4 linked regions of the Homo sapiens genome follow. The protein of the gene in region 1 interacts with the protein of each later gene in a biochemical or structural test. Each region holds a gene or a part of one and is shown on either strand. Other genes may lie near its edges. The genes, in order: CREBBP, KAT2B, STAT1 and CREB1.

Region 1 (7,898 bases):
GGGGCATGGACTGCCTATGTGTTGCTCCCAAGGACCTTCACTCCTGGCAACAGCCCTGAAGGCTCAAAGATAACCTGACCCATGCCCCAAGAACCCCTGGCCTGTAAGCTCACGGACAGTAGACACCAGCCCCCTTCCTTCCGACTTCCTCTGACCTGGGAGTCACATCAGCCCTTGCCACAGCCTGTCCAACTCCTGTACTCAAACTATGAAGCCAGACAGTGAAAGGCTGAGGGAGGCCGGTCCCTCCCAAAGCGCCGACAGCTGCCGTGAAGTGCCTCTGGGAAGGCCTGAGCTATCCGCAGTGCACCAGTGGGACTTCCCCAACGCGCAAGCCCAAGTTACTGAAAACTGCTCGCACCTGGCAACCTGATGGAGCCCTAGGACCAGGTACCATGACTGTGTTCACAAAAAGATATGAAAACTGCCGCATTCAGAAACTAGAAAGAGGACAAAGGAGACTGGAGAAAGGTGGAAAGCGGAAGAAGTGTGTGAAGGTGGGGAGGGAAGAAAGGCCCTCGCTCTGCTGAGGACCCGCTCTGCCCCGCTACAGACACCACAGCAAGTGAGGAGGCTCCGGGTTGGCAGGTGATGGTGACTGTCCTGGGAGGGGGATGGTGGGATCTGTCACCTGCCTGCCCTGCACAGCCTGACTCGGCCCATGCAAGGGACACCCACGTCATTTCACAGGGGGGTCAAAATTCCTAGAGGGGAGTGAGGGAGCATGACCGGGGGGTCCTTCAGGAACAAGTGGCCAGAGGGGCCCAAGCTGCCAACAGGACAGCGGGTGTTTCCAGCCATTTAGCAAGACTAGAACTGGGCACAGACAGGCCAGACTTCCCAGCAGAGCCTCCCTCTGGCCGTCCCCAGGGTCAGGCCTGTGGCTGTGGCTACACAGAGCAGGTTTAGGAAACACACACACAGCAACGCCTTCTGCCTTGTGACGCTGTCCTAGTTCTGGAGGAGTCAGTGCAGCCACCATCAGGTACAGACACCAACCCGGGCACCCATGCAAAGGGACAGGATGCTTCGTCAGACCCCAGGCCGGCTGTGGGGGTGGGGGTGGGGGCAGGGCCTACCTCGCACACAGTGCAGTGCCAGCGCGTCTCCACGTGGTGCTTGCACTCGTTGCAGGTGTAGACAAAGCGGTCCTGGCCCTGGGTGTGCAGCTCCACCAGCATGCAGAGCGTGGACCACTTGGAGCGGCGCAAGGAGGAGAACTCCCAGTGCTTGTCTCTGGCGAGGGTGAGGAAGGCGTCGCGCCCATCCATGAGGTCACAGCTGAGCAGGGGGTCGGGGTCGACGATGGGGGGCAGGGTGTTGATGACAGGCCCAGCGTGCAGGTGGATCACGAAGAAGACCTGCAGGAGAGGAGGGGCTTTAGTCCCACACAAGGGACATGGCACCTCCAGTGGTGAGCTCAGGGCAGGCGCAGCCACCCAGCCTGCAGAATAGGCAGGTGGCTGAGCCTGATGGCCCTGATGCCTTGGGATGGAACAAAATTGGTGACACGTTGCATGATGTCACCCAACTGGTCCACTTGGTTTCCTGGGGGCCACTTCCCTCCCACCACAGACCTGCACACGGGCCCACGCCCGCCAGCTGCGAGTCTTTCCCTCCTCCCGGCCAGAGGCACGGCTGCAGCACCGCAGCCCACGCCTACCTCCTTGTGCTTCTCCATGGTGGCATACAGCTTCTGGGACAGGTCATTGGACACGTTGGGCATGCTGGGCTTCTTCTTGTTGGCGCGGCTGATGCTGCTTTTGTTCTTGTTGGTTTTCTTGTTGTTCTTCTTCTTGGCATTCTTGCTGTCGCCCTGACTGCCCTGCAACAACACGCAAGGCTGTGAGACCAGGCAAGTGCCCCTCCACACTTGGCACGGACGCCCAGCTCCCAGGCCGTGGGCATCAGGAAGCTCAGGCCAAAGTAGGTCACCACCAGGCAGACCCCATACGTGAACGGCTACAGGTGGCTGTAGGTGCTGCAGCCTTCGGGACAGAGCAGGGCCTGTCCTCGGCCAGGCTGGTGTCATTATCAGCTTTATGCCACGCTGCCTCTAAAGGGGAAAAGAGACCCAGAGTGCGAGTTCAGAAATTAACAAATGAGGGCAGTGGGGGCTGTTTCCACTGTGCCACAACCAGATGCGGAAGATTCCACGTCACAACTGTGGTCAGCAGCTGTCTGCCTTGAGGAAGGCTCTACACACCCGAGAAAGCATGAGAGCTTCCAGGAGACAGGAAAGCTGCTGATGGGAAAAGCAGCTGCCCCATCAAGAGCAGGGACTCTGAGGCCCCTGCGGGGTCCACTCAAGGCCCACGGAGAGCAGGCTGGCTCCCTGCTGGGGCCATCAGTGCTGCGCCTGACTGGCTGAAGGTGGGCTTGCTCTCAGCCCACAGGCTCCTCCTCTGGAAAGAACGCAGGATTACCACTCACTTACACTTTAACAGAGAGCTTTATTTTTTTTGAGAGACGGAGTTTTGCTCTTGTTGCCAGGCTGGAGTGCAGTGGTGTCATCTTGGGTTCAAGTGATTCTCCTGCCTCAGCCTCCTGGGTAGCTGGGATTATAGGCACCCGCCACCATGCCCGGCTACCTATCATTTTTTTTGAGACAGAGTCTCGCTCTTGTCACCCAAGCTGAAGTGCAATAACGCGATCTCGGCTCACTGCAACCTCTGCCTCCAAGGTTCAAGCGATTCTCCTGCCTGAACCTCCCTAGTAGCTGAGATTATAGGTGCTGCCACCACACCCAGCTAATTTTTGTATTTTTAGTAGAGATGGGGTTTCACCATGTTGGTCAGGCTGGCCTTGAACTCCGGACCTCGGGTGATCCGCCCGCCTGAGCCTCCCAAAGTGCTGAGATTACAGGCATGAGCCACCGTGCCCAGCCAGAGAGTTTCATTTTTAACAAGATGAGAGAGACTCTTGGTGTTCAAAGAGAGGGGTCAGTCCAGAGAGAATTCAACAATCCAGCCGGGCGGGGTGGCTCACACCTGTAATCCCAGCACTTTGGAAGGCCAAGGCAGGCGGATCTCGAGGTCAGGAAATCAAGACCAACCTGGCTAACACGGTGAAACTCCGTCTCTACTAAAAACACAAAAAATTAGCCAGGCGTGGTGGCGGGTGCCTGCAGTCCCACCTACTCGGGAGGCTGAGGCAGGAGAATGGTGTGAACCCGGGAGGCGGAGCTTGCAGTGAGCTGAGATGGCGCCACTGCACTCCAGCCTGGGCGACAGAGCGAGACTCCATCTCAAAAAAAAAAAAAAAAAATTCCCACCCCACCGACAAGCAGCCCGAGGAGCCCAAATATCACGTGGGTCCTCCGCAGGATTCAGAGACAGAAAAGGGACGTCAGGGGAAAACTGAGGAAATTGGAACGAAGTGTAGACTTAACAATAATGCATCAACATCAACAAATGGCTCACCGTGGCAGCAAATGTGCCACACTAAGGTAAGACATTAGTAACAGGAGAAACTGCGTGCTGCAATATACTGGAACTCTGTGCTCAATTTTTGTGTCAGCCTTAAAACAAAGGAAGCCTATTTTTTTTGAGATGGAGTCTCGCTCTGTCACCAGGCTGGAGTGCAGTGGCACAATCTTGGCTCACTGCAATCTGTGCCTCCCGGGTTCAAGTGATTCTCCTGCCTCAGCCTCCCAAGTAGCTGGGACTACAGGCGTGCGCCACCACACCTGGCTAATTTTTGTATTTTTAGTAGAGACGGGGTTTCACCATGTTGGCCAAGCTGGTCTCAAACTCCTGACCTCAAGTGATCCACCTGCCTTGGCCTCTCAAAGTGCTGGGATTACAGGCGTGAGCCACCACGCCCGGCCTGGAAGTCTATTTTTACAAAATTATAAAATAAATATGTTCATGAAATTAAGAAAATATAGACAAGTAATTTTAAAAAGTTTTGTTTTTCTGGTCTTCCCGAGCAGCAGTGTTCTGTGTTCTGGAGCTTTCCCTGGGCACATTTGTCTCCGTGTTTGCGACATTCCTCACGAAGCTGGGACTGCACACAGGGAGCTGGTTCCGTTTCTCGCCCCACCTGACACTATCGCGAGCCTTTCCCCATTTCCCAGAATTGACAGCATGATGCAGAGCAGAGCTAATAGCAAAGCAGTGCTCCACCCCACGCACCAGCCCTCACTAAGGCTGACCCCCAGAGCGAGCTCCTGGGGTGTTGCTGACGAAGGCATGTCCCTGCCCATTGTTGTCCATGAACCAAACACACAAGGGACAGCAGGTCTACATGCCGACACCTCAGCATCCCGCCTCCTAACACATGCATGTCCCCGGTGCACAGGGAAGGCTGCCCCAGCAGGAGCCCCTATCAGGCCTGTCTTCTGGACAACCCCACTGCTGCCATGCCACAGGCAGGTGCCCCCTCCTGGGGTGGAACTCAGCTGCGCAAAGCCTGTCTCGGACGCGGTAACCTCCCGTGTCACCCTTAGGAGATGGAACTCAAGCATTAACTCACCAGACACCAGTGAGACCAGCTACACTCCAGCGGGAGCAAGTCCGAAGACAACAGGCCAGGAGCTCTGCTTAGGAGCCACCTAGGGCGTAAACCCACGCCACCCCCTGCCCGCGCCTCCTCTGTCCTGCGAATGACACTCTGGGGCGCCGTCCAGCAGGTGGCTGCCTCTCAACCACCTGTGCAGTGAGCACGAGTGTGTGTGGCGGAAGCGGCCCAGGCCCCACGCTCCGCCTACAGCCCATCCGGCACCCACCTCACAGACGTGCTCTCATATGGGACAGGCACCAGAGTGGCAGTATGTCCCCAGCCGGCTCCCGGCTGCCTCACCCATGGCAGCAGCCCACGCAAGAGCCACCTCCATTCACCGCTTTTCCTCACTGGTCACAATCGCCTGTCCCAAGTTCTGGGGCTGCAGCCTTCAACGTTCGTCATCGCTCTCCCTGCACCTACAGCTACAGCCCACACCCACGCCACCATCATCTCTTCCCCAGACAGCCGCACAAACCCGCACACAGCGCGCCTCCTCCCACCGCCTGGCGGGTCCTCTTCCAGCACCTTCCTGTGGTGGGCGGGTCTGGCCCACACGCCACCTCCCCAAGGCTCCTTCCCCTTCAGAGCTCTGCCACGCTCAGAGCACACCATGCTTGGGTCTGGGTTCTTTTTGTTTCACATCCTACCAGGACACAGCCACTCCCTTGGGGGCGGAGATGGGGTTTTGTTTGTTCTGAAACGGAGTCTCGCACTGTCTCCTGGGCTGGAGTGCAACGGCGCAATCTAGGCTCACTGCAACCTCCGCCTCCCGGGTTCAAGCGATTCTCCTGCCTCAACCTCCCTCGTAGCTGGGATTACAGGTGCCCCCTCCCACAACCGGCTAAATTTTTGTATTTTTAGTAGAGATGGGGTTTCACTGTGTTAGCCAGGCTGGTCTCCCTTTCCTGACCTTGTGATCCGCCTGCCTCGGCCTCCCAAAGTGCGGGGTTACAGGTGTGAGCCACCGCGCCTGGCCAGGGATGGGGTTTTGTTTGGCTCAGTCTGCACTGCCTGGCACTCAGGGGCAGCGCCAAGGAGAGAGGGCAGCAGGGCATGAGCATCATGTGCAGAGTGGCCACCAAACACGGAATAAGGCCTGGCAACCCTGTGCCTCCTCGACTCACTTTTTACATCAGCGGGTTGTGTCCTGACTGCCCCATGTCCCATTTTCTGTCTTCCTCTCTTCCCTCTCCGAGTCTAAGTGGACCCCCAGCTCCCCAGAGCATCCACTGTGCAGAGAGTGCAGAGCCCACACTGCTGCCCACCAACGCCCTGTGCTGCAGGTGGTGTCGACGTGCATGTGTGAACGGAGACACCACCACAGGAAGGACCTAACAGTCGACACGCGCCTCCCAGCCTGCCACCCTGCAGCTCCAGCGGGACACGTGGGCAATGGAGCTCAGAGAAGGGTCTGTACCTCAGTGGTTTCACTGGCTGCAGTGCTCTCTTCCTTTTTCCTCTCCTCTTCTTCTTGTTCTAGTTCCTTAATGCTCTCTTCTAACACATTGGGCCAGAAATCACCTTCAAAATAGGGCAGTTCCTTGGCACTGGTGAGCCTGTCTTCAGTTGCTTGTTTGAAAATATCCTGAGTGGGCAAAGCACAACAGTGAGATGAGGGCCATGCACGCGTGCCCCCCACCATGGTGCGACAGACCCCCACGCAAGCGTGCCCCTCACCATGGTGTGGCAGAGTCCCATGCATGTGTGCCCCCCCACCACAGTGCAGCAGACCCCCACACATGTGCACCCCCCACCACAGTGCTGGAGCCCCTATGTGTGCAACAGTGATGCACAGGCCCCAATGCCCACTGATGGAAACAGCTCCAACTGTGCTGCTCTCAGACGGCCAGGGGAAAGCCTCAATCAGCTGAAGAAAATGCTTCTAAGTTCTCACTTTAGGCTTTTATTTTTCTGCTTTCTAATCCTCATAAGTGAAGGTAATTAACAAGTATGCGAATGCAAGAAAAAGGCACACAAATATCCTCCCCTCAGTTGTGACAAAAGCCACCACCTTCCTTCAGCGCCGGGTACCTTGTAGTCATGGATGATCCGCTCTGCAAACGCCTTGTCCAGCATCTTTTTGTACCACTCCTGCAGTCGTTTTGGCTTGGGTATTTTTTGATCAGGTGGGTGGCAATGGAAGATGTAATCATCTCCTTCACTTGGAGGACAGGCCCAGATGTGCCCTGTCACATACCTGCAGGACCCACGCACACACGTCAGATGAACGTGCCAGTGAAATCGGCCCTGCCTTTAAGGAGTTATAGCAGAGGAGCAAGGACTAAAGCCAGGACAGAAGTAACCAGAGAGAGAGAATGAATGCCCACAAAGCTGGGTGTGGTGGGGGCAAGGCTCGAACTTTATCCTGAGCAAATGCAAGCCTGCAAATTAGCCCTGCAACACTTCTCCCTTGGGGTGCACACACAGGGCAGGGCCGAGGCTGCAAAAGAAACCTGAGGCCTCATTAAAGAACCAGGGAATATGATGGCTCATCAAGGCAATGCCATCCCCTTCCTCCTGTGCACTGTAAAGGCAGTTCGGTTGACTATTTTTCTCCAAGGGTCAATGTCAACATAAACCTCATTCATTCTGTTCAAGACACTTTGATCAAATGCCCCTATCCTTTTCAAGTTTCAGAAGGGAATGGGGCAGGTCTAGAGTACAGAAACCAAGGGCTAGAGAAGGAAGCCAGACCCAAGACAGCATACGCTGCAGGGTTCCGTTTACACAAAGGATTCACAAAAGACAAATTCAGAGAGACAAAGTAGATTAGTGGTCGCCTGGGGCAGGGAAGGTTTAACAGCAAGGGGCAGGAGGAACATTTTTTTTCTTTTTTCTTTTTTTTTTTTTGCGGGCGGGGGGCAGAGTTTCATTGTTGTTGCCCAGGGTGGAGTGCAATGGCATGATCTCGACTCAGCGCATCCTCTGTCTCCCTGGTTCGAGTGGCTCTCCTGCCCCCACCTCCTGAGGAGCTGGGATTACGCTAGGCACCCGCCACCACGCCTGGCTCATTTTTTGTATTTTTAGTACAGACAGGGTTTCACCATGTTGGTCAGGCTGGTCTTGAACTCCTGATCTCAGGTGATCCACCTGCCTTGGCCTCCCAAAGTACTAGGATTACAGACTAGGTGAGCCAATTTTTTTTTGTATTTTTCTTTTTTTCTTTTCTTTCTTTTTTCTTTTTTTGAGATGGAGTCTTGCTCTGTCGCCCAGGCTGGAGTGCAGTGGCACAATCTCAGCTCACTGCAACCCCCCGCCTCCTGGATTCAAGGAATTCTCCTGCCTCAGCCTCTTGAGTAGCTGGGATTACAGGCTCATGCTACTATGCCCGGCTAACTTTTGTATTTTTAGTAGAGACAGGGTTTCACCATGTTGGTCAGGCTGGTCTCAAA
Region 2 (7,875 bases), on another chromosome or scaffold:
TTTGGTTTCGTTTGTGAAGTTTAAAGGCCAGATTTATATCAGGCCTGGGACCTGTTTTTCTTTCAAAAGCCCCCCAGTGAACTACCTTATCTCTTTCTAGATCCCTCCTCATTCTCTAATCTCTCTAATCTAACTTGCCAAGGGGCCTGTGGCAAAGGTAGAGCAATCTGTCCTTTTGGGCTTGCTCATATTAAGTGCAGAAACAAGCTGAGAGAGAACCACAGATTTTGCTCTCTTACACTCCCTCGTACCCAATCAAGTCCAGTTAAATTTTTTTTTTTTTTAAAAAAAGCAAATCTGAGATAATGTCACTCTCCAGGTTAAGATTCCTGCACTCCTCAGTGCCCTCTTGGCCACGCACCCCAGCCGGTGGCCCTAGGCAACAAAGGTCTGGCTCAGTTGGCCCACCTCCAAGCTTCCACAACTGCTTTCAGTTTCTCCACTACAAGAAGCTTCACCCCACCCCACTCTGCCCTGCCAAGAGTTCTTAGCAGCCACTGACACTTCCTCCAGGAAGCCAATCCCACCCTACCAGTGCCCCAGTCTATGAACTGTCCTGCTCTGGGTCCGCAACTACTCCAAGAAAGTAGTTTTTCTGAACTTCTCTGTAATTTTGGTTCACTGCCCTCATCCCTAGGCCCCCAACACATGCATACACACACATGCACTTGTGCACACACACAATAAGTAACTCCTGAAGGACAAATTCTGTGTGTCATAGGCCCAGCACCTAGCCCAATGCCTGACACCCAGTTGGTAACCCTCTAAATATTTACTGAATGAATGGATACATAAAAATGAACACTTTCAGCCAGGCATGGTGGCCCATGCCTATAATCTCAGCACTTTGGGAAGCAAGGCGGGCAAATTGCTTGGGCTCAGGAGTTTGAGAACAGCCTGGGCAACAAGGTGAAACCCTATCTCTACAAAGAATACAAATAATAATAATAATAGTGTACTGGCGCATGCCTGTAGTCCCAGCTACTCAAGAGGCTGATGTAGGAGGATCACCTGAGCCCAGGGAGGTTGAGTCTGCAGTGAGCTACGATCATGCCACTGCACTCCAGCCTACGTGGCAGAGTGAGACCCTGTCTCAAAAAAAAAAAAAGACGTTAAAATAAATTTTCTCTTTCTCTTGTTGGGTCATGAAAGTGACCAGGAAACACTCAAATCCCACTTGGAAGTGGTGCTACATCTCACCCATGGAAATTTGAAAAGATCAAAAATATCAATGCAGGCCACATATGCTCATGGTTTTAGACAAAACCAAAACTTCAGGAAAGTTTTCAGATATTAAAGCTACAGCAGGCAGCAGGAAGTCTTTAAGAGGTGCTGGTGATGAGAACCCAATAAATAAATTTTAAAATAAAGCCAGAACAGAAACACTGAGTTGAGACAGTTCCTGCATGAGCCCACTTTGGCTGCGAAACGCCAAGGCCACCAAGTAATTGACCTTGCTCTTTTTTTTCATAGGTTTTTGTGGAACAGGTGGTGTTTGATTACATAAGTTCTTTAATGGTGATTTGTGAGATTTTGGTGTAGTCATCACCCAAGCAGTATGCCCTGTACCCATGACCTTGTTCTTAATTCTGTACATAGCTCGCCCTTCTGCCTACTACAGTCGGTGTCCTGTTCTCATTCGTCTAATGCCCTTCATGATCAACTCCTGGGCTTGCACCTTTCTTAGAAGCACACTCCCCACTTCATCTTTTTTGCATTCCTTCTTCAGAAATAACCACATAGCATTATTATTTGTTTCTGTCTTTTCTGCTAAAATCAAAGGGGACAAATAATATATTGTCCAGGTCTGAATTGGAATGTGGTCTGTGGACTAGCATAGCATCACTTGGGAGTTTGTCAGAAATGCAAACTCTCAGCTTCCACCTCAGACCACCTGATTCATAATCAGCATTTTAACCAGCTTCCCCAGGAGATTCCCATGCACATTAAAGTTTGAGGAGCACTGGGCTAGATCCTACATTCACTCAACAAATATTTATTGAACCAGTGTAGGATACAGAGGTGCTTAACATAAACCTGAGCATATGGTGTGGAAAAAGAGCAAGCATAGACATTCCATTGTGACTGAGAAGCTCCTGCAAGTACCAAGAAGAGTATAACCTAGATGTTCTAGTAGAATAAATTATAGTTATGTCAAAATTCAGAAGTGGTCACTGCAGCTTGGTTGTGACAATCGGGAATCTGGAATCTGGGAACTTGACCCTCTTTACAGCAGGCAGGAAGAATACAGGGAGGTGTGAGTGTGTGTGAGTGTGTCTCTTCCCTGCCTCAGCCACAGGCCGCAGGAGCTGACAAGGCCAAGTCCCCGCCCCCCTCAGCTGTCACCCTGTCAAAACAAAGCCGCTGCTGACAGCGCAGGGCCAGCCTGCCCCGCGGCCTCGGGCAATCCTCCCACCTCGGGAACACAGCCTCCACATCTGGATCTGCAGCTGGAGGTGACAGGGTGCCTAAACTGGCATGGAGAGTGGGTAGCAAGAAATGGGTGTCCTCAAACTGAGCAGTAGCGCCCGCCGCGCTGGGCTGTCACTTTGCCAAATCCTGTTTACACCTCGAGCAGCTGGGACAGCGTTTTAACTAAACAAGTAATAATACAATAATGACAGGGCTGTCACCGCGCGCGGCAGTGCCTCCGCCCCCAGCCGAGGGCGCCAGGCACCACAAGACCCTCGCCTCGGACTCTGCCCACCTTCCCACCCCGCGCTTTCCTCCCCTTCGCTTTCCCAAAGCGCCAGGAGTCCGGGAGTCTTCTCCACCCCCACTCCTTGCACCCAGTTCCTCCCAGTGGGACACAGGAAGGGATCGATTGCAGAAGGGACCACTCAGTCCCCCAAAAGATTTTTCCTTGCCCCTGGGTCACCCGCCACATGGAGAGCACCGCTCCACTCCCGGGAAAGTGACTCCAGCGAGCTCCTACAGAGCAACAAAACCCCAAGGTAGCCCGGGAGCTCGGATGCCGAAGCTACTCCTTTCAAGCGGAAGGAATGAAGGGCTCTCCGTCTTAGTGATCCCCCTTCTTCAAACCCAGCAGGACTCTTATCCAAGAAGAAGCTAATTGGGCGCGGGCGACAAGAGCACTTCCGCGGTGCAGCGGCCCCAGGCGGGAGGCGAGAGGCAGGAGGCGGGAGGCGGAGGTGGAAGCGGGAGGGGGAGGGGGGTCCCGCGGGCTGGGCCCCTAGCACCCATCCGCGGTCCGAGAGCGGCGAGCGCGTACCTTGCAGGCGGAGTACACTCCGAGTTTCTCCAGTTTCTTGGCCCGCGGAGCGGAGCGTAGTTGCGCTTTCTTCACGGCGATTCGGGCCGAGCCACCGCCTCCCGGTCCTTCGGCCGTGCCCGCTGCAGCCACTGCCGTCGCCGGACCGCAGGCGCCCGAGCCCCCGGCGGCAGCGGCGCAGGGGGAGCCCTGCGGGGGCGCGGGCGGAAGCGCCGCAGGCTGCGGGGGCAGCGCCCCGGGCCCGGCCCCTGCCCCGGCTCCTGCCCCGCAGCCGCCCGGCCCGGCCCCGCCAGCCTCGGACATGCCGCCCCGGAGCACGGCAGGAGGCGCCGAGTGTCAGGCGCCGCCGCCGCCGCCAGGGTCTCCCTCTCGGGCTCTGGTAGTCGGGAGAGCGAGACCCTCCCCCCACGCCCTCCCGCCCCCTTCGCCCACCCCCCTCCCCGCCCCCGCCCTCCCCCTAGCGCGCCGCTCGCCCGGCTCGCTCTGGCCGGGCCCCGCGCGCTGATGGTGGTGGCGGCGGCGGCAGCGGCGGCAGCTGCTCCCCCAGGAGGGAGGGGACTAGCGGCTCCGCTGCCGCTGCCGCCGCCGCCACAGCACACGCCCTCCCTTGGTTCTCCTGCCCGGGACTCTGCTCCGCGCCCTGGCTGCGGACATGTTCCTCGGGACTGCGGACTAGGTGTGCGTGCCGGCGGCTGCCAGCCTCACGGTGTCTGCCAGCGCTGGGAGGCCCCCCACGGCCTCTTTTCCGCTGCCCGCGGGGTTTGCACCCCCCACCCCAGTGCTTCGACACCTACCGCTCGCCCGCCAGGGGGCGAGGCCAATCCCTGGGTGTGGGTGAGGGTGGGGACGAGGGTGGGGGTAGGGGCCTGGAGCCCAGGCACCTGCTGGCCACCTCCCCCCTCCGCGGCCCCCCATCCGACCCCCGCACGCCTGCACCAGTGGGAGGGGGCAGCCTCTCAATCATTTGTCCTTTCACTCTCTTCCACCCTGTCTCTGACAGAGAGACAACTTCCTCCACCCTAGCGGGAGCCAGAGGAAAAAAAATATATTTTTGAAAAGTACCCGTCCATGCTAATCTTTTTCTTTGTTGCTAATTCACCAAAATAAAGACGTGATGTTCTCCCTTTCTCTTTTTAAATACTTTCTGTCAAACTATTTTTTAATATAATTAACACTTTCTTCCCATAGCAATTTCTGGGTCAAATCTGCCGGAGGAGGGGAAAAAAACTTACTATTCTCTGTAATTTTTGTTTGAAAGTGCTGGTTGCTAAAAGAAAGATTGTCTAAAAAGCATTGTCAAAAACTATGCAGTGGAAAAAGTTTGAATACAAAAAGTTTGTTAACAGGATTCGTTTCTGGGTGGTGGTTCTATAACGTTACGTAGTTTTCAAAATTGTGCCACCGCGTGCGTATTAACCAGGAAAAAGATATAAGCATAATTCAAAAGAATAAATATCGATTTTGGCCTCAAACTTTAAAAAGAAAAAAAAAACCCTCAACTCAGTGTTTCCAACTCTTGTTGAAAACTGTTGTTTTCACTGTTGATGACTGTGGAGCATACAAGTCAGTGCTGCGTTTGAAAGTGGTGTACCGTTGATCGCCTTCTTAAGCAGGTTTTAAAAGCCCAGGGCTTTTTCTCAGGACCCTTCAGAAGTGCCCTACTTTTTGTTATATGCAATGTGGGTCATAATGTGCTTATTATCAGATTTTATGCATGCTGTATAGCTCTCAGGCCAGACGCTTTAAGGGGTGTGCTTTTCGTGGGAAACATTCCCCTTCTTCTTTTTCCAGATTCTCTGTGTTATTTTGACTTGTAATGCAGGTTAATATATAAACATTGGGAGGTGGGGGAGTTTGTAGATCTAAACAGTGATATTAGCTTAGACAGGGCAAAAGGCAATATTCTCTCCCAACTTGAGTCCAGTCTTGAGGGGATGAAATGGCAGATTCTTATCAGGTTCCATTCAGGACAATTAATTTCAGTGCTTCCTTTCTTAGCTTGACGTGCTTCACGTTACCAGTGTTACTCTCTCCTGGCTCTGCTGAGATGTTTCGCAGATTTTTGCCATTCTCCGCAAAGCAGGGTGAGAGTCTTAAAGGCTGTGCTTCTCTGATCAACCTCTAACATGGATTTAACAGATACTAATAAGAGCTTGGGTTCCACCTTGCAGGCATTTGTCAAACTGATGGAATGATCCACTTGAGATCTGTACATTTCACTGGATATAAATGTTGCCTCAAAAATTTTTAAAAAAAGAAAAATCACAAGCATTGAACTCTAATGGTGCTCTTTGTACTTTGAGATACATCAAAAATAAGATGTATGGATGCCTCCATGCATGGGTAAAGGGTGGATGAACAGAGATATGATAAAGCAAATAGGGGTCCATATAATAGAGTCTAGGTAATGGGCACAGTGCGCAATTCTTTCAACTTTTCTGTATGTTTGAAAATTTTCACAGTGACAATTGGGGGAGGGAACCCAGATTTAACATTAAGTCACCTATCAACTCCTCCTCCCAAGCGTCCCTCAGAATTCAGGAGGCAGACAATTTCCAGGATGTTTTGAAGCAGAAGTAGCCAATCTCCTTTCAATCCACTCTGAAAACCATCACTGTCTGAGTGGCGAATGGCTTGTGCCATTAACTGAACATTATTTTTCATTATTTCCCTGCTCAGAGTACCCAGATGACATACTGCCTTAGGCTGAAGGCCCGTGGTTTCAAGACCTATTCAAAGTGTGTTATGAGCACCAGGCAAGGAAATTTCAAGGGCAAAGGATTCAGGAGGCTTATTGCTTTTCCATAATTAGGTTGTTGTAAGCATTCAGTGTGCTCTTTCTGTGCACACAGTACTTTTAAGAAATAACTACCAAGAAAATAAAAGGCAATGTTTTCATTTACAAAGTATTTACCACTTACTGAGGTAAAGAAGCTACATTCAGAAAATAAAAGCTTGGAGAGTGGGCATGGTAGAGGCAGGCTGACCACTGGAGGTTACTTGTGGTATATTCACACAACAGAATATTTTATACCTGTTATACACAATGACCTTTATAAAAATATAATAACATAGATCTCTAAGAAACACTGTTGAATAAATCTCAGTGCAGCATAATACCATTTATGTTAAAAACAAACTCACATTGACATATAAGCACAATTTTGTATATGTTCAATAAATGCATGGGAAATTCAAAAGTAAGGGAAAGATTTAAAAAGGTACATAGCAATAAAATAAAATTTCAACTTCAGAACACGAGATTATATAACAAGAAGTTGATAAGGTCCACCCCTTCCCATTCTCCCTGGTGCTGCAGTATACTTCAGCCAAACTCAGGAAATGCTTTCCTACCTCAGGGCCTTTGCATTTGCTGTACTATGTGGATACCCTCCACCAAACAGCATGGCTAACCCTATTCATCTGGTATTCCTTGCTCAGAGATGCCTTCCTAAAAAAGGCAAGTTTTGTGGCCATCTATTGTTATATCATCTAGCAGAGTTTCTTGCCATATTCCTTCCTACCAAGGCTATACAGCTTCTGTAATGTACCAGTAACCCTGAATCCCACAGATGGATTGAAATTATCCCCAGTAAAGGCACAGACTGTAAGGGTACAGATCAAGTGGTCAAAGTGCAGGTTTGGCCCAGTACATGGACCATGACTGACATTCTTCCCAGACACCTGCTTTTAGAAACAGCAGTTGGATATGAGTGTAAAATAAAGAGACATGTCAATGCCTAAGTGGGGCTCCTTGGGCCAACCTTCCTCTGAGGGAAGTGGCTATAATTACTGAACATTTATTTTAAATTAAATAAAATAAATCCTCCTAGGAAAAAAGTTTTGAAAATAATAAATGAATCCTAGGATGAGGAAACATAAAATCCCCTTCCCTAGTTTTCAAGCATTTATGAATTAAATCATTTCCAGTGTGAATCTTAACCATGCCCCAAATACCATTAGTGCTTTCTTTTTTTTTTGAGACAGAGCCTCGCTTTGTCGCCTGGGCTGGAGTGCAGTGGCGCTATCTCGGCTCACTGCAACCTCCATCTCCTGGGTTCAAGCGATTCTCCTGCCTCAGCCTCCCGAGTAGCTGGAATTACAGGCGCCCACCATCACGCCCAGCTGATTTTTTATATTTTTGGTAGAGATAGGATTTCACCATGTTGGCCAGGCTGGTCTCGAACCCCTGACCTCGTGATTCACCCGCCTTGGCCTCCTAAAGTGTTGAGATTACAGGCGTGAGCCACCATGCCCAGCGCCATTAGTGCTATTTTATTCAACCTTTTTTTTTTTCTTTTTGAGGCAGGGTCTAGCTCTGTCACCCAAGCTGGAGTGCTGTGTTATGATCAAGGCACACTGCAGCCTCGACCTCCTGGGCTCAAGTAATCCTCCTACCTGAGCCTCCCAAGTAGCTGGGACTACAGACATGTGCCACCACACTCGGCTACTTTTTTTTTTTTTTCCAATTTTTATTAGAAACAAGGTCTCAATATGTTGCCCAGACTGGTCTCTCACTCCTGGCCTCAGCAGTCTTCCTGCCTGGGCCTCCCAAAGTGTTGGGATTACAGCCATGAGCCACTGCACTACCCAACCTTATTTATTTTAATTCTTAGTTATCCTTAGTAACAATCTTCTATTAT
Region 3 (7,846 bases), on another chromosome or scaffold:
CTTGCTTTAAGACAAATCACAAGACTCTCCCAAAATTGCTCTCCTACAAATCACAGTACATTTGTAATTTAACTCAAATATTTTCAAACTTCTGTTTTATATTTATGATTCATATGGTAAAATTCATTATTTTTCTTATACACATTTAAAAAGATATATTTTCTTCTTTGCCTACTACAAACAATAAATCTGGCATAAAGAAGTAATGATTTTTAAAGATTAAAACATCATTAAATGTAATTTAAAAGGATAAAGTAACACTTAGCTTTTTGGATAACTGTTAAGTCCATTTTTACATAGTGATCCTAAAGATTCAAAATCACAACAAAAACTTGATATAAGCAAGTCCTAAAATTCATTAGGAAAACGGAGAGTCTCCCATGACCATCATGTAACTTAGGATTTATATCAGCACACAGGTGGCAATATGCAGAGCAGACACAAGTGAATCTTGTCCTGCCAGACCTCTGGGGAAGGAGTCTGGATTTTCAAGTAGGGCATGGAAGAGTGTGTATGCATACTTGTAGCCGAGCACATGTATGCAGGCATGAGGTCACGCCTACTCCACAAATGTCCTTCCAAAGGAGTGTGAGGAAATGTCTGGCCTATAAAGCTAGTTATCCTCATATATACCAGTAGAAACGGACCCAAGCCCAGCCCCTTGGCACTCCTGCTGAAGCAATTTGATTTTTCAGTTCAGTTTTATTTTACCTGAGTGGAAAAATCTGTGGCTGTCTCCCTCCCTGCTTGGTAACTAATAAGGATCTACCTAAAGCAGATATGCTGGACCGTCAGGCAATGGGAGCTGCAACGCCTCTTATTAGCCAAGCGAACCCAGGTAACTTACTCCCCTATCAACAAGGTGTGTGTGTGTGTGTTTAGTAGACAGGAACTTGCTCTGTCATCCAGGTTGGAGCGCAGTGGCAGTGGAGCGCAGTTCACTGCAGCCTCCAACCCCTGGACTAGAGCAATCCTCCCACCTCAGCCTCCCAAGGAGCTCAGACTGCAAGTGATATGGTTTGGCTCTATGCCCCCACCCAAATCTTACCTCGAATTGTAATATAATTCCCATGTGTTAAGGGCGGGACCAGTGGAGGTAACTGAATCATGGGGGCAGTCTCCCCCATGCTGTTCTCGTGATAATGAGTGAGCCTCATGACATCTGATGGTTTTATAAGCCACTGGCATTTCCCCTGCTTGCATCTATTCTCTCTCCTGCTGCCCCGTGAAGAGATGCCTTCTGCCATGCAGAACTGTGAGTCAATTAAACCTCTTCACTTTATAAATTACCTAGTCTCGGGCAGTTCTTTATAGCAGCATGAGAACAGACTAATACAATAAACACGAGCCAAGAAGCCTGGCTAATTTTTAAATTTTCTGTAGAGACAGCCTCTCGTTATGTTTCTGAGGCTGGTCTCAAACACCTGACCTCAGGCAATCCTTCCACCTCAGCCTCCCAAAGTGCTGGGATTACAGGCGTGAGCTTCCGCACCCTGCCACAGTTGGTTCTTAAGGCTGGTTGAGCTAGTACATATGTAGCACCTGGCACAGAAGAGGTGAATTAATAAGCTCATGTTTGGGCTGGCCAGGTGGCTCACGCCTGTAATCCCAGCACTTTCGGAGGCCAAGGTGGGCGGATTGCCTGAGCTCCGGAGTTCAAGACCAGCCTGGGCAACATGGTGAAACCTTGTCTCTACTAAAATACAAAAAAAAATTAGCAGGGCATGGTGGTGTGCACCTGTAGTCCCAACTACTCGTGAGGCTGAGGCAGGGGAATTGCTTGAACCCAGGAGGCGGAGGTTGCAGTGAGCTGAGATCGCGCCACTGTACTCCAGCCTGGGAGACAGAGAGAGACTCTGTCTCTAAAAAAAAAAAACAATGAATAAATAAGCTCATGTTCACAAATCTGGAGTCAGTCTCATCTACTCACAAAACCTGTTACCAACTCAGGGAGTGGCATGGCCATCTCCCAGTCACTGAGCTCAAATCTCAGATTTAGGGTTGATTCCTTCCACTCCATCCCAAGACCTGCTCCTTCCTGTCTCCAACATTCTACCTTCCCAGTCCAGCCTCTGCTGCCCACAGATTGGACCACATCAATCTCCTGTGCAAAAATCCTATGATCTGTCCATTCCTAGGCAGATTTCCACCCCACCCCATCTTCATCCATCAACAAAGCAACCCAGTCACCAAATCATTTACTGTTTTTCAACTGTGCCCAACATTTCTGCTTTGCTCCAGCTACTCGCCCTTGGAAACAGCCTCTCCACAAATTTTTGCGTCTCTAAATCCTATAGCATTCAAAGCTATGTACAAAAGCCCCTTCTTTCATAAAGTTGTCTGAGACTTACTCACAATTAAGCTTTCTTTGACTTGCGTCTCACTGAATTCTGTACCTCTATTAGAGCATCGGTTCCAGTTTTCCTTGTAAAGCTCTGTGATGCCTCCAGAGTCCCCGGCGGGGGAAGGTGGGTGGGGAGGGGGTAGAGTAGTGGGGTATTTTGCTTTTTAACATCTTATGGACCTTGGACAGTGCCCTGCATATACTATGTGCTCGAAACAGTTTGTTGAATTGAAATTATGTATATTTCAGACGGAATTAGAAAGTAAAAAGCAAACCATATTATGATCTCACAAGTGTGAGTCCAGCATCCTCATTAAGCAATGGTTGCACAATGGACTGTGCTGGAGGCTCAAGTCCTGTTTCTGTTCTATGAAAATAACTCCTTATCTATACAAACAACATTCAAAGCACAATCAACCACACCTCTGCATACCTACCACAGAACTCTTCAGTACCGGCCAGAAATTTTTTTAAGACTATATTATTTTGGGGTGGGGGGTCTGCAAAAACTAAACATCACTTTTAAACTCTAGGAAGACATTAAGCCCTTCCATCTTTGAACATAGAAACATAATTAAGATTCCGAAGTCATGTACTCATTCATCTGATTCCATGAACATTTACTGACCTGCCACCTTGTGCCCCAACAAGGGCCTGGGGATTCAACCAAAGGAGCAGCTACGCACAGCACGTTAGGTGCCAAGACTGTCGAGGTTATATACACAGAGTGCGAACGTTAACCTAGACAGCTCTCGAGGATGGCATACAGCAAATGAAACTTTCTGCGAAAAGAAGAAAACGTGACTGATGGAAAGGGGTGGAAACGGGAGAAAGTGACGGTAAATGGGAAGGTGCAGTGCCTTCTAGAGGAAAATTATATTTCACAAGTCCTCTTCACTGCCAGAGCACGACTGGCAAGGACAATCGTGCTGAGCAGTGCCATCTCCGAGAACAGGTGGCACTGCTCGCACTTGGAATACTCAGGACGCGTTCTTCCTCTGGGATCACTATTCGCGGGTCAGCACAGACGGCCCGTCCTCGCCCGGCGTCCAACTGCACGGCCCGAGGACTCTGTCCCTGCGCGTCCCACCCCCGGCACCCGGAACCTCACGGCCACTCACTCTGCGCGCAGGATCCGGAAGGGCTAGGCGGGGGCGCGGCGGTGCAGCCTCTCCCGAGCGCGCTGGGTCGCCTCTGCTCGGTCTGGGGTCTGCCAGGCGCGATCCCCCCGGTGCAGCCGAGCCCCTCCGCAGACTCTGCGCAGGAAAGCGAAACTACCCGGCAGGAGAAAAGGCAGCGCTGGCGCCCGGCCCCCTTCCGCCCCCACCAATCACCGGGCGGCTCCGCGCTCAGCCAATTAGACGCGGCTGTTCCGTGGGCGCCACCGCCTCCCTCTGCGGGCCGCTGCTCCGCCCACGCGCTGGGGTATTTCCGCCGGCTTCCGGCGGGGGCCGCCGGCTGGGTGAGCTGCAGCCCAGTCCCGTGTTGCCACGCTGGGAACTGGCGTTCTGTTTACATATCTTAGAGAACGATCAGAAGGACGTGCTGTGTTTGCAGAAGCCCAAACTTGGAGGTCTCTGTAGTAGTTTCATCGCCGAGAATCCAGGCAGAGGACAGATTTGGCGACGTCGTCATTCTAGAAGCTCCCTTTAGCAACTGACCTCCGTGTTGCTAAACCCAGGGAACGCTTTTCTGTTTTTCTCACTTTACTTGACAGCTCGGAAGCATGGGGCAGAGTTGACGCCTTTGTTCTTGAAACACGTTTCTTCCTTGGTCATGATGATAACACATCCTTCTTGCTTTTTCCTGCCTCTGGCATTCTTTCTACATTGCCTCCACCTCCACTATCAAACCATTATATGTTAAGGTTGTCAGGGTCCAGACATTCGTCAGCTTCTTTACCTGGGCTTCTCCTAAACGCTGTGCTGTGATGACCTCACCCACAGCTTCAGTTTCCTTCTAGATGGAGGAGTCTTAAATGCTTATCCCGTCCACACCTCTCCTCTGGGCTTCACACCTACAACTCCCACTTGCCTCTCCACTTGTATGTGCAGTGAGCTCTACAAACTATGTTCAGAACCAAACATCTTTCTCCTCAAACCTGCTCTTTTTCTAGAAATGGCACATGACAGATACCTAGGATTCATAGTTGACATTGCCTTCTCCCTCACCTCGCAACACCTGATCCTCAAATCTTAATTGATTCTTCCTCCTAAATATTTCCCAAGTCTCATTTACTCTGCTCCATCTCTTCTGCTGCCTCCTTCTGCAGTAGATTCCCGAATGGCTGCCTCACTTCAGCCCTTATCTACCTTTTAATCCATTCTCCATACAAGAGTTTGAGTGTTTTTTTTTTTAATTGAAAAGCAGATCATGTCATTTGCCAACCTGAAAATCCTTCCATGGCTTTTCTTTGCTCTTATAAAATTCAGTTTCTTAATACATACTATAAAGCCCTGGTTGCCCGATCTCTTTGTCCAACCCCATAATGTGCCACTCTGCTTTGCTTACTTCAGCATTTAGTTCTTCAAATAAACCACACTCTCCAAACTCAGGGACTTCTCACCCTGAGTTTGGAAAACCCCTTGAGCCAACATCTGCTTCACCCAACTCTTCGCTGGCTAACTCATCTTTTAGATCTTAGTTTAAAAATCTCAGCTTAAATGTCACTTCTCCAGGTAGGCATTGCTGAAGCCAGACAAACTAAATCTTTTTGGACTATATGCTCATAAAATCAATTAGTTCCTTCAAGTAGACGGGATTTGAGTCAAGCCTTGAATAATTAGGCACTTTGGGGTAGGAGAAGGATCTGAATAATTTCCCATGGATATGCCTATATGTGTGTGTATGAGTTTTTTTTCTTTGCACATCTATTTGTTCTTCTTGTCACAAATGCACCCTCACAAAGCAAGTTAGCAGTGAAATTAGACTTCTCTGCCAAGAGATGCCACGGCACCAAAAGTGTCCCTTCTGCTCTTACTCACCCAAGAACCAAGACAATGTTTTACTGTTCTCTGAAAAAAGCTGTATTAATCCATTTTTAACGCTGCTAATAAAGACCTGAGACTGGGCAATTTACAAAATAAAGAGGTTTAATGGACTTACAGTTCCACATGGCTGGGGAGGCCTCACAATCATGGCGGGAGGCAAGGAGGAACAAGTCACATCTTTCATTGATGGCGGCAGGCAAAGAGCTTGTGCAGGGAAACTCCCATTTTTAAAATGATCGGATCCTCGAGACTCATTCACTATCACAAAAACAGCGCAGGAAAGTCTCGCCCCCATAATTTAATCACCTCCCACCAGTTTCCTCCCATGACAGGTGGGAATTGTGGGAGTTATCATTCAAGATGAGATTTGGGTGGGGACACAGCCAAACTATATCAAAAGTTGACTCTAGGAAGGGTAGATTACATGTTAAAAATTTTTTTTCTGGTACTATAAAACTTGCACAGATATTAGCTTCAATATTGATGAAGGAATGGAATAATCCTAACATCTGCAAATAGGATTATTTGGCACTCCAAATCCCAATTTGGATCATCAAGATCTGTGGATGCTTCCTTCCCTACCCCCCTTTATTTTAGCATCCACAGCAATACCTACCATAAGCCTTCATCACTTGAGAATTGGAATGCTATGCTAATCTCTAGGTATACTACCTTTTTCTTGTCTCTTTCTCCTTCACTATATTTGCCAAATTCAATTCCTTAAAATACTGCATTGATATAGTCATTCCCTGCTCAAAAGCCTTAACAACTCTCCTTGCACATATGATAAACACAAATGTTGTCTGCTAGTCTGGATCCTCCACAAAATGTTTCTTTCCTTCTTTCCAGCCTTTTCTATCATTGTCGCATTTCCCAACTAACCTCGTCTAGCTCCAGCACTCCCCCCATGCTTTTAATTTCCTGATTTCTGCCCCTTTGTACATACTGAATGGCAAGTCTTGCTCCTCACTCTCTTCACTTACCAAATTCTTATTCACCTGTTAAAGCCCAGCCCAAATACTATATTCTCTTTCTAGAACCACCTCAACCTGTAGCAATTAATCTGGGGTCTCTGAATGACCAAATAATATATGTGTCTCTATTTATTTGGACAATAACTATACACTCTCTAATATTATGGTTTTTGAAGTGTCCAATCCTTATGCCTCCAAGATTCAATATTCCTGAAGGATAAACTATTTATATTTTCTTACTGTATAACATATTGACTGCTTCAAAAAGCAATCAAACCAAAGCCAAACAAAAACCTAGAAATCCAGAATTTGACAGATACAAATGTGTGACGGTTGCCTTATAACAGTCAGCTTGGAAAGCTATATCTATATATCAACAATGTCAGATTTGCAAAAGACACAAAACTAGAAAAAACAGCTAACACTATGTCTGTAGATTGTACTATTTTCAAATCTCTTCTGTCCCTTCCCACTGCTTGCCATGGTTCACTAAGGGTGGAGTATACCTCTCTGTGTGCTGTAACTCTGACCTTGGCTATGTGACTTGTTCTGGATAAAGGAATATGAACAGTTGTGATGTATATACCATCTGTCCTGAAACTGCGTGTTCTTTGTAATCAACTTGTTCTTGTGTGCTCCTTCCCTCTGCTAGGAGACAGCATGCCTCAGGTTCCCACGCTAAATCAAAATTCTAAATAATCTAAATATTCTAACGGACTGCTGCTGGTCTGAAACCAACTGGATACTATGTATGTATGTATATATGTATGTATGTATGTATTGATGACAGAGTCTCGCTCTGTCGCCCAGGCTGGAGTGCATTGGTGCAATCTCGGCTCACTGCAACCACCGCCTCCTGAGTTCAAGCGATTCTCATTCTTTAGCCTCCCAAGTAGCTGGGATTATAGGCCTACATCACCAAACCCGTCAAATTTTTTGTATTTTTAGTAGAGTCAGGGTTTTGCCATGTTGGCCAGACTGGTCTCACACTCCCGGCCTCAGGTGATCTGTCTGCCTTGACCTCCCAAAGTGCTGGGATTACAGGTGTCAACCACTGTGCCTGGCCTCAACTGGATAACTTTTTTTTTTTTTGAGACCAAGTGTCACTCTGTCGCCCAGGCTGGAGTGCAGTGGCGCGATCTTGGCTCACTGCAACCTCCCCCTCCTAGGTTCAAACGATTCTCCTCCCTCAGCCTCCCATCAACTGGACAACATTTAAAACAATAAATGCAACTACTTGTATTGGATTTAAAAGAGCAACAAATGACAGGGTACACTGTCACCAGCAATCAATCAGAAGCAACAGGTAAGGTGAAATTTCCTATTTGCCACCCCTGAACTGGTGTACAGACAAAGGAGAGTCAAGGACAGTGAGGAATCCAGAAAATACTATTATATGATGAGTAACTGATGTGAAGTCACCGGAGTAACTCATAAGTTCACATGATGTTACAGTAGAAAGACTTAAGAACTACTCCACACTTCCCATTTGGAGGAACTGTATTTTGCTTGGAGAAAAGACAGTATCATTCCTATTC
Region 4 (8,273 bases), on another chromosome or scaffold:
TTCAAGCAAACTCTGTCAAGTAATTTATTAGCTTTCTAAATGTAGGTGTTCATGAAAAAAAAAAAAAGATTCAAGCAGATCCAGCTGTAATTTTTATCCATGGCTGGAACAGTGCAGAAGTACAATTTAGTAACATGTTCCAGGTGAATGTTCAAGTATTAATGAATACAAGTTTGAAGTTTCACCTGGAATTGCTAAGAATCACAAATTATGAATGTATAAATAATAAAACAGGCCGGGCGCGGTGGCTCACACCTGTAATCCCAGCTACTCGGGGGGCTGGGGCAGGAGAATTGCTTGAACCCGGGAGGCGGAGCTTGCAGTGAGTGAGCCGAGACCAGCCCACTGCACTCCAGCCTGGGCAATAAGGGCCAAACTCCGTCTCAAAAAAACAAATAAATAAAAATAAAAATAAAAAATACAATTTAAAATATCTCTCGGGCAAGACTAAAGAAAGAACTTATCAGTAAACTTTTTTTTTTTTGAGATGGGGTCTCGCTGTCACCAGGCTGGAGGGCAGTGGCGCGATCTCGGCTCACTGCAATCTCCACCTCCTGGGCTCAAGAGATTCTCCTGCCTCAGCTACCCTAGTAGCTGGGATTACAAGCACGCGCCACGACACCCAGCTAATTTTTGTATTTTTAGTAGAGACGGGGTTTCACCATGTTAGCCAGGATGGTCTCGATCTCTTGACCTCGTGAGCCGCCTGCCTCGGCTTCCCAAAGTGCTGGGATTACAGATGTGAGCCACCGCACTCGGCCATCAGTGAACAATTTTTTAAAAATCTCACAAATGAAGAGTCATATATTCTTTCTTTTTTTTTTTTTTCTTTGAGACGGAGTCTTGCTGTGTCGCCCAGGCTGAAGTGCATGGCACGATCTCAATTCACTGCAACCCCAGCCCCCCGAGTAGCTGGGATTACAGGCGCGTGCCACCACACCCGGCTAATTTTTGTATTTTTAGTAGAGATGGGGTTTCATCATGTTGGCCAGGCTGGTCTTGCACTCCTGACCTCAAGTGATCCGCCCGCCTCGACCCCCCAAGTGCTGGGATTACAGGCCTCAGCCACCGCGCCCGACTTATATTCTTAACAAGAAAAAAAATTCTACTCTACTGATAGTGGCTTGCGGAACAACATAAAGGAAAAATGGTAAGCTACCATTATCAATACTATAATTTTTTCAGTGCTCGGAAATAAAATCATTTCCCCAATCTTTATAGAAAACCTGCCTTTATTGCCTCTTCTTAATTTTCTTGGAAATGACAAATTGCCAATGTGGTCTTTTAAAGAGAAGCAATACAGCAAAGCACGTTTTGGAAAAGTGACTAGAATACAGAAAAATAAGACAGTGCTTCTGCTGCCAATCAATATTTGTTCTTAACCAGAAGGTTTGTACGTATCAATCACAATGCAATCATACAGTGACAGACAAGTATTTTTAAAACAAACTTGTTCGTCTTTTGCACCACCTAAAATAACTGTTCGGGGCTTTACTTTTAAATCACGAAATGAGCCATAAATGTAAAAGATTTCAATAGGCAGCAATCAAAAGTATCTTCTACTAAACCTTCAGAAGTTAGACGCCAGCTGAGGTTAGAATTATAACTTGAGATGGTATTACAAACTTAAATAGGTCATACCGCACGTCCTTCAAAAACTGTCTTTTAATTTTTAATGTGTCAATGACTTTTCTGCTGTCCTCTTTTCCCAACAGGCGAAGAAAAAATACAGCTTGTGGCTTAAATTGTCAATCTCAAGACGGGGGTTACCTACTGCATGAGACAAATAATGGATACTTTAATGTCTATTTTTAGTAGTAGTATTAAATCAATCTCTCATTAAAGTTCACACAGAAATTCGTGGGAAATATGGTAGGGGGAGTGGGACGGAGGGTGAGGGGAGATCCAGATGACCCAAACGCGGTTGGCAAGGTTGCACCCCGCGAAATGATGTAAAACAAGAGTACATCGGCTGATACTCGTTCCAACGAAGTGTTTCAGAATGATAGATCTCAAGTGATGATTACCTTATTAAAAAGGGTTAAAACCGAAACTGTTTTCAAACACCAGCTTCCCTTTTATAAGATCCCAACAGTTTAAAAAGTTATTATAAATGTTTTTCTTAGCACCCTTTCTCCCAAAAAGCATGCATTTCCATGACTGACTTTAAAAAAAAAAAAAAAGCAAAGGGGTGAGGGAGTCAAAAATTCCCCCCAAAAGCACAAGCTCTCATCTCTCAACTAAGCAACACAGGGCAGAAAGCAGCATTTCCTCAACGGTGTAGGAGCGGGGGGGAAAGGGCACGAATAAAATACAGCACGAGAGGAAACCTTGGGTTTCGAACTTTATTGCACAAAGAGTGGAGAGAAGAGTAGGTCAGACGTTGCAGCTCTTCCCCTTGCGAAGCGGGCATGGCAGGCACCGAAGCCACCGGGAAGGCAGCAGGCACCTTCACCTCCTCTGCCCTCAACTGTCGCCTTCTTCCTCCTCCATCCCCCACCGGCACCTAGGCGGCGGCTGCCCCGGAGGCCCGGCCGGGTCGGGCCGGGGGCGAGGCGGGCGGCGGGGGCCGGACGAGCGAGCGGCGCGGGGGGCAGCGCCGGGCCGAGCGGGCGGCCTCCCCCGGGGCGGCTCCGGGTTCCCGGCTCCGCGCCCGGCCCGGCGGCGGCGGCGGGAACGCGGGCGCCAGCTCGCCGCGGCCGGCCGCCCGCACACACCCCCGGCCGCCGGCTCCCACCCCGCCCGCCGCCCGCCGCCCGCCGCCCCCCGCCATGAGCGCCGCCGCTGGCTGCAGGCAGAGTCGCTGCCGCCCCGGCCGCCGCTGGCTCCAGTCCGCCGCCATTATTCTTTGTTCGCTGCGAGCGGCGGCGATGTTGTGGGGCTCGGGCGGAGGCTCCATCTTTACCGCGGCCCCTCCTGCGAGGGGAAGGCCCCAAGCGCGGGTGTCCGGCGCCTCCCCGTCCCCCCTCCGTCCCCCCGGCTCTCTCTGGCTCCTGCCTCCTCCTCCTGCTCCTCTTACCGGTGGTACAAGCTCCTCCGTCACTGCTTTCGTTCACGGCCCGGATCTCGCTGGAGTTTTATTCTCTCCCCCACGTAACACACCGCGTCAAACTACACCTCCGCCGCGTCACTCACCAACACTCCGCTTCTCCCAGCCGCCCGGGCCACAGGCAGCAGCAGCCGCCGCCGACTGAGGAGCCGCAGCCAGGGAGCCAGCCAGCGCCGCCCAGTGCCGAGTGCGCAGCGGCCGCGCACGGAAACAGCCGAGCTAGGCCCGGAGCAGCTCGAGCGGCCCCGCCCCCGCGCTGGGGACGGAACTTGCCGAAGACCTTCGGGTTTCTTCGGGCGACGAGAAGGGGTTCCGCGGGGAGAGGGAAGGCGAAGGCGGGCTGAGCCCGGCGCCGGGAGGAGTGGTCTAAACTCCACCGCGGCTTTCGCATCGGTAAAGCCGGCAGCGGAAATTTGAAGGAGGAAGCGGGGTTTGTGTGTGGCCCAGTGGGGGAATTCCCGAGGGGTGTCGGCGACTTGGTGGAAACCCCCGCTCAGGCCTGCCCCTGCGGCGGTGAGCGGCGGGCTAGAAGGCGGCTGCGGCTGCCCTGGCTCTGCTCTTGACCGCCGCCAGCCCCGGGAACTTTCCGACGCCGCCGGGAGACGGGGGACGGGCAGCCCGGGCTGGGACGCGGCCGGACCGCTGGAGCCGTGCGGGCTGGGGAAGAAGGTCTGCTGCGCCTCTGCCAACGTCCCGGGGCCTGGGACCCGGGGGCGTCGTGGGACCCCCGTGGGGACGGGTTTTCCTTTCCGAGACTCCGCGGAGAAACCTGGCGGCCGCCAGCGGAGCATGCTTTTCCGGGGGGCGCTGGCCCCGATACTGTGGCACCTTGCGGGGCTCTGCCCGGACCATGGCTGACGTCGACGGCCCTCGGAGGCCTCCAAGCCACACAACCTGCCCGGACCCCTGGAAATATGCCCCATCCTACCTCCCCGCCTTTCTCCAGACAACATCCTGTGTCGCTTTCTTTCCTCAGCCTGTTTTCTACAGCAGGGATTCGCACCCACTGCACCCTAAACCCAGCAGGGGGACTTCCGTGGCTGGAAACTACTGAATTGTTCTTTCAGAGGTCTCTCAGGACGGCACCACTAGGTCCCCATTCTCCTTGATAGTGAACTCTGCAGCCCTCTCCTTGGGGTTTCAAGTCTTTTTTTTTTTTTTTTTTTTTTTAATGAGACGGAGTCTAGCCCTTGTCGCCCAGGCTGGAGTGCAGTGGCACGATCTCGGCTCACTGCAACCTCCGCCTCCCGGTTTCGAGCGATTCTCCTGCCTCAGCCTCCCTAGTAGCTGGGATTACAGGCACCTGCCACCACACCTGGCTAATTTTTGTGTTGTTAGTAGAGACGGGGTTTCACCATGTTGGCCAGGCTGGTATGGAACTCCTGACCTCAGGTAATCCACCCGCCTCGGCCTCCTAAAGTGGTGGGGTTACACGTATGAGCCACCGCGCCCGGCCTCAAGTCTTAATCATTCTTTTTCTGTCCTTTAAAGGAGACGTGTCTTTAGGAAGCAGAGAGGGTTCGATTCTGGACTCCGCCCATGACTCACTTCTCTTGTAAAGAAAGAGTTGTCCTTCCTGGTACTCCAGGTACCCTACTGTTTTCTTATGGACTTTGCCCTTAACGAGTCTCCTTTCCTTCTGTTACTCTCAACCTTTCCTTCTCTACCGGCTCTTTCTTACTGGTATTTAAACATGCTTAAGTCTTTCAATTCTTTAAAAAGATTTCTCTTCTCCCTAAATTGCTCTCCAACAACTGCAGCTGTCTCTTACCCCATGGACAGTCTTTCATGTCCCACCTCCCAGCCCTCTCCAGTGTCCCCACCGCTCACCTGAAGTGGCTCTGAATTGTCCACAGACAAGCTTCATGACTGTAAATGCAGCGGATCATTTTCAGTCCTCATTTTACAAGCCCTCATCCCAGTATTTGACGCGATTGACCACAGTTGCTTCCAAATACCCTCTTCCCTCTGGTCTTATGTCCCAGGTTTCCTCCCTACCTGAGTTTGCTCTTTAACAACCAGCTCCTCCTTGATCTACCTCTTACACATTGGAATCATGCTGAGCTGAACCCTGGCCCTCTTACTGAGTCTCCCCATACACTTTCCTAGGTGGTCTTATGCTCTCCCAGCAGCATCAAATACCCTCTGTCAAAGACTCTTCAATCCATAACTCAAGCCTAGATCTTGCTCTGGAATCCTACATTCATAGTTCCCAGCATACTGCCTTTGGTACACTTTCATTTGGATGACTTAGGGCATTTCAAACTCAACCCGTATATCATAATTCCTTCAAAACGCTCCTCCCATAGTCCCTGGTTCAGTAAAGGGTATCTTAACATCTACCCAGTTCATGCCAGAAACCTAGCACACCTCCAACACACAGCAGAATCACCTACATCTGTCTGCTCCCTGGAAAATTGGATTTGTGACCTCTCTCTGTTCCCATGACCATTTTTTCATTCCCATTCTAGTCTAAACCACTGTTGCCTCTTGCTTGAAGTCCCACAGTAACCCATTCAGGTCCTCCAAAACTGCTCTTGCCTCGTTCCAATACATTTGCCATACTGCTGCCAGAGTAATTTTTTAAATATAAATCTGATCATTGACCTGCTTAAATTCCTCCAGTGGTCTCCCTTTGCTTACCACACATTGTCTAAGCTCCATTATCTGTACTTGTCTTTCTCTCCAGCCTCTCCATCTGTCCCCCTAGCTGCCTGCACTCCTGCCATAGTATTTTAATTTTTTCCAGGCTCTCCTCTTTTTATTCCCTACTGTAGGCTCTCACTTCAGGGCATTTACACATGCCCTTCCCTTCCCCTGGAATTTTTTTCTGTCACCCATTCCTCCTACTTAACTGTAACTTATCACTTTCTTTTCCAATTCCTACTTCTCATTATTTGTTTAGTGTCCATGTAATTGTGCAGGTAAGGACCACGTCTGTCTTGTTCACTACCAGCTTTTCCTCTCCCTAGCAACAGCACAATGTCTAGAATATAGTGGTACTTGTTAGGTATTTATCGAATAAATAGTGAATTTCTGAGTGGTCCCGGGCAAAGTTTTCTCAACATTTGAATTCAAATCCTGGCTCTCAGTGAGTTCAGGTTGCCGTAGTAAAGTACCATATAGACTGGTGGCTTATAAACAACAGAAATGTATTTCTCATAGCTCTGGAGGCTGGATATCTGAAATCAGGCTGCCAACATGGTCAGGTTCTGGTGAAGGCCCTCTTCAGGGTTGTAGATGGCTGTTTTTTCCCTTTACCTCACAATGCAGAAAGAGAGCAAGAGCTCTCGGGTTGCTTTTATAAGGCACTAATCCCATTCACAAGGGGTTTACCTCCCAAAGGCCTCATCTCCTAATACCATCACATTGAGGGTGAAGATTTCAAAAATACGAATTTGCAGGAGACAGGGGTGGGGGTGAATTCATTGCACTGGCTCAGCCACTTATTAGCTAATGACTTTGGGCAAATTGTTCACTCTTGTGCCTCAGTTTTCCCATCTGTAAAATAAAGATGATAATAGCACCTCATAGTGTTATTGTAATGATTACGTGACATAATACATGTGAAGTATACTTGGAACAATGTTAGGAAAAATGTTGCCTATTACTAGCTTTTACTTGGATAGCTTATCCTCGTGTCAAATACGTTTTCAAAATTGAGTTCATCTTCCTGCTCTTCTTACCGTGGCTCTATACATGATATCAAAAAACTTTGGAATTATTTACTCATAACCTATAATTATCACCCACCAAATATGGTGAGTTTTTATTTAAAAATGTCCTCATATTCATTCTTCCTTTTTATATACACTAACCTTCATTTAGACTCTATTATCATTGATTATTTTGCTAACTTCCTAGGTGTCTTCTAACTGGAGGCTAGCTTTCCCTATTCATTTGGGCCCTTACTGTCAGACCAGTGGGCCTCAAACAATTATTAAAACATATATTCTTCTTGACTTCTGCTCAAATGACCTCCGTTCCCACCTAACTTTGTTCATTCATTTATTCAATCATCCATTCATTCCAATGCAAGTTATTTTACTACTAACATTTTGGGTATACTCTAGATTTTCAGCCTCTCTACTTTGACATTTCTCTCTTGGATATTCTCTCTTCGGATATACTCTAGCATTTTCAATCTCACTATCTGACATTTCTCCTTTCAGCATCCAAGTTTTGTCTCTGGGATTTGGAAGCCACCTGCATTTTAAAAGAAATTTTTTCCAGGATCAGTCTCTCGCTGTGTTGCTCAGGCTGAAGTGCAGTGGCTGTACACAGGAGCGGTCATCGCATGTGACAGCCCCACACCCCTGGGCTCAAGTGACTCTCTTGCCCTCAGCCTCCTGAGTAGCTGGGACTACAGGTGATCCCCCATTTTTGACTCAGTTTTCCAATTGCAAAATGTGGTCAATATCAGGGAGATGAAAGAGGAGCACACATGGATGTAACTTGATAGAGTATAAGAAAAGTATCTTGAAAGAGGTCCAGAATAGGGGGAAGGTCCCATAAGATGATTATAAAAGGCTTCAAAGAGAAAGTAGTATTTGAGAGCTTTTCTATAATCACAACTTCCTCTTCCTGTTATTTTTTGCTCATTTCTGCTGTCGAATATAATTTTCACCCTCACTGTGAGCTCAAGTTCCATGAACCCTGCCTGCCCTAGTTCATCACCTCCTGTGATTTGCTTTCCTACCTAACCCCAAGACCATGGTGACCTATTTCATTTATTCTAAAAATATCTGTGGAGCACCTCCTTTGTGCCAGGCATTCTTCTAGAGACTGGGGAAATTATGAATAAAACAGATTGTCTTTCCTCTCAAATGTCCTAACATTTTCAACTTCTCTACTTGGGAGGTAAACCCCTTGTGAATGGGATTAGTGCCTTAAAGCAAGGAGGGGGATATATTATGGGTTTCTTTCTTATTTGGTAAGATTTCCTATAGTCTTAATATAATAGATAGCAATAAATAAATACTTCTGGGTGAGGAATTAATTGAAATCCTCAGTATCCCTCTATTTATAATGGCTAAAAAAATGTGAATGACCCAAATGTCCCCATTACTGAATAGATAACCACTTAATTTGTTTTTGTCTCTTTTATATACATGTACCACTCTTAACTCTTATAACTATACTTATTCATTTCATGTATACTTACATATATTCTTTATTGAACCATGAACTCTCTAAAGGCAAAGTTGTGTTTTGTTGAACTTGT

The links.
Region 2: the proteins of CREBBP (region 1) and KAT2B form a complex in vitro, tested with the Homo sapiens proteins (4 studies listed by BioGRID).
Region 3: the proteins of CREBBP (region 1) and STAT1 form a complex in vitro, tested with the Homo sapiens proteins (5 studies listed by BioGRID, with this or other methods).
Region 4: the proteins of CREBBP (region 1) and CREB1 form a complex in vitro, tested with the Homo sapiens proteins (15 studies listed by BioGRID, with this or other methods).

The regions. Positions count from the first base shown.
Region 1 is NC_000016.10:3,730,113-3,738,010, forward strand, and holds part of CREBBP (CREB-binding protein), read right to left. Parts: intron 6,704-7,898; coding exon 6,538-6,703; intron 6,092-6,537; coding exon 5,924-6,091; intron 1,826-5,923; coding exon 1,664-1,825; intron 1,362-1,663; coding exon 1,080-1,361; intron 1-1,079. UniProt on the Homo sapiens protein: Acetylates histones, giving a specific tag for transcriptional activation. Mediates acetylation of histone H3 at 'Lys-18' and 'Lys-27' (H3K18ac and H3K27ac, respectively).
Region 2 is NC_000003.12:20,036,138-20,044,012, reverse strand, and holds the start of KAT2B (histone acetyltransferase KAT2B), read right to left. Parts: upstream 3,568-7,875; 5' UTR 3,536-3,567; coding exon 3,233-3,535; intron 1-3,232. UniProt on the Homo sapiens protein: Functions as a histone acetyltransferase (HAT) to promote transcriptional activation. Has significant histone acetyltransferase activity with core histones (H3 and H4), and also with nucleosome core particles.
Region 3 is NC_000002.12:191,010,553-191,018,398, forward strand, and holds the start of STAT1 (signal transducer and activator of transcription 1-alpha/beta), read right to left. Parts: upstream 3,620-7,846; 5' UTR 3,466-3,619; intron 3,127-3,465; 5' UTR 2,973-3,126; intron 1-2,972. UniProt on the Homo sapiens protein: Signal transducer and transcription activator that mediates cellular responses to interferons (IFNs), cytokine KITLG/SCF and other cytokines and other growth factors.
Region 4 is NC_000002.12:207,524,881-207,533,153, reverse strand, and holds the start of CREB1 (cyclic AMP-responsive element-binding protein 1), read right to left. Parts: upstream 3,193-8,273; 5' UTR 3,020-3,192; intron 1-3,019.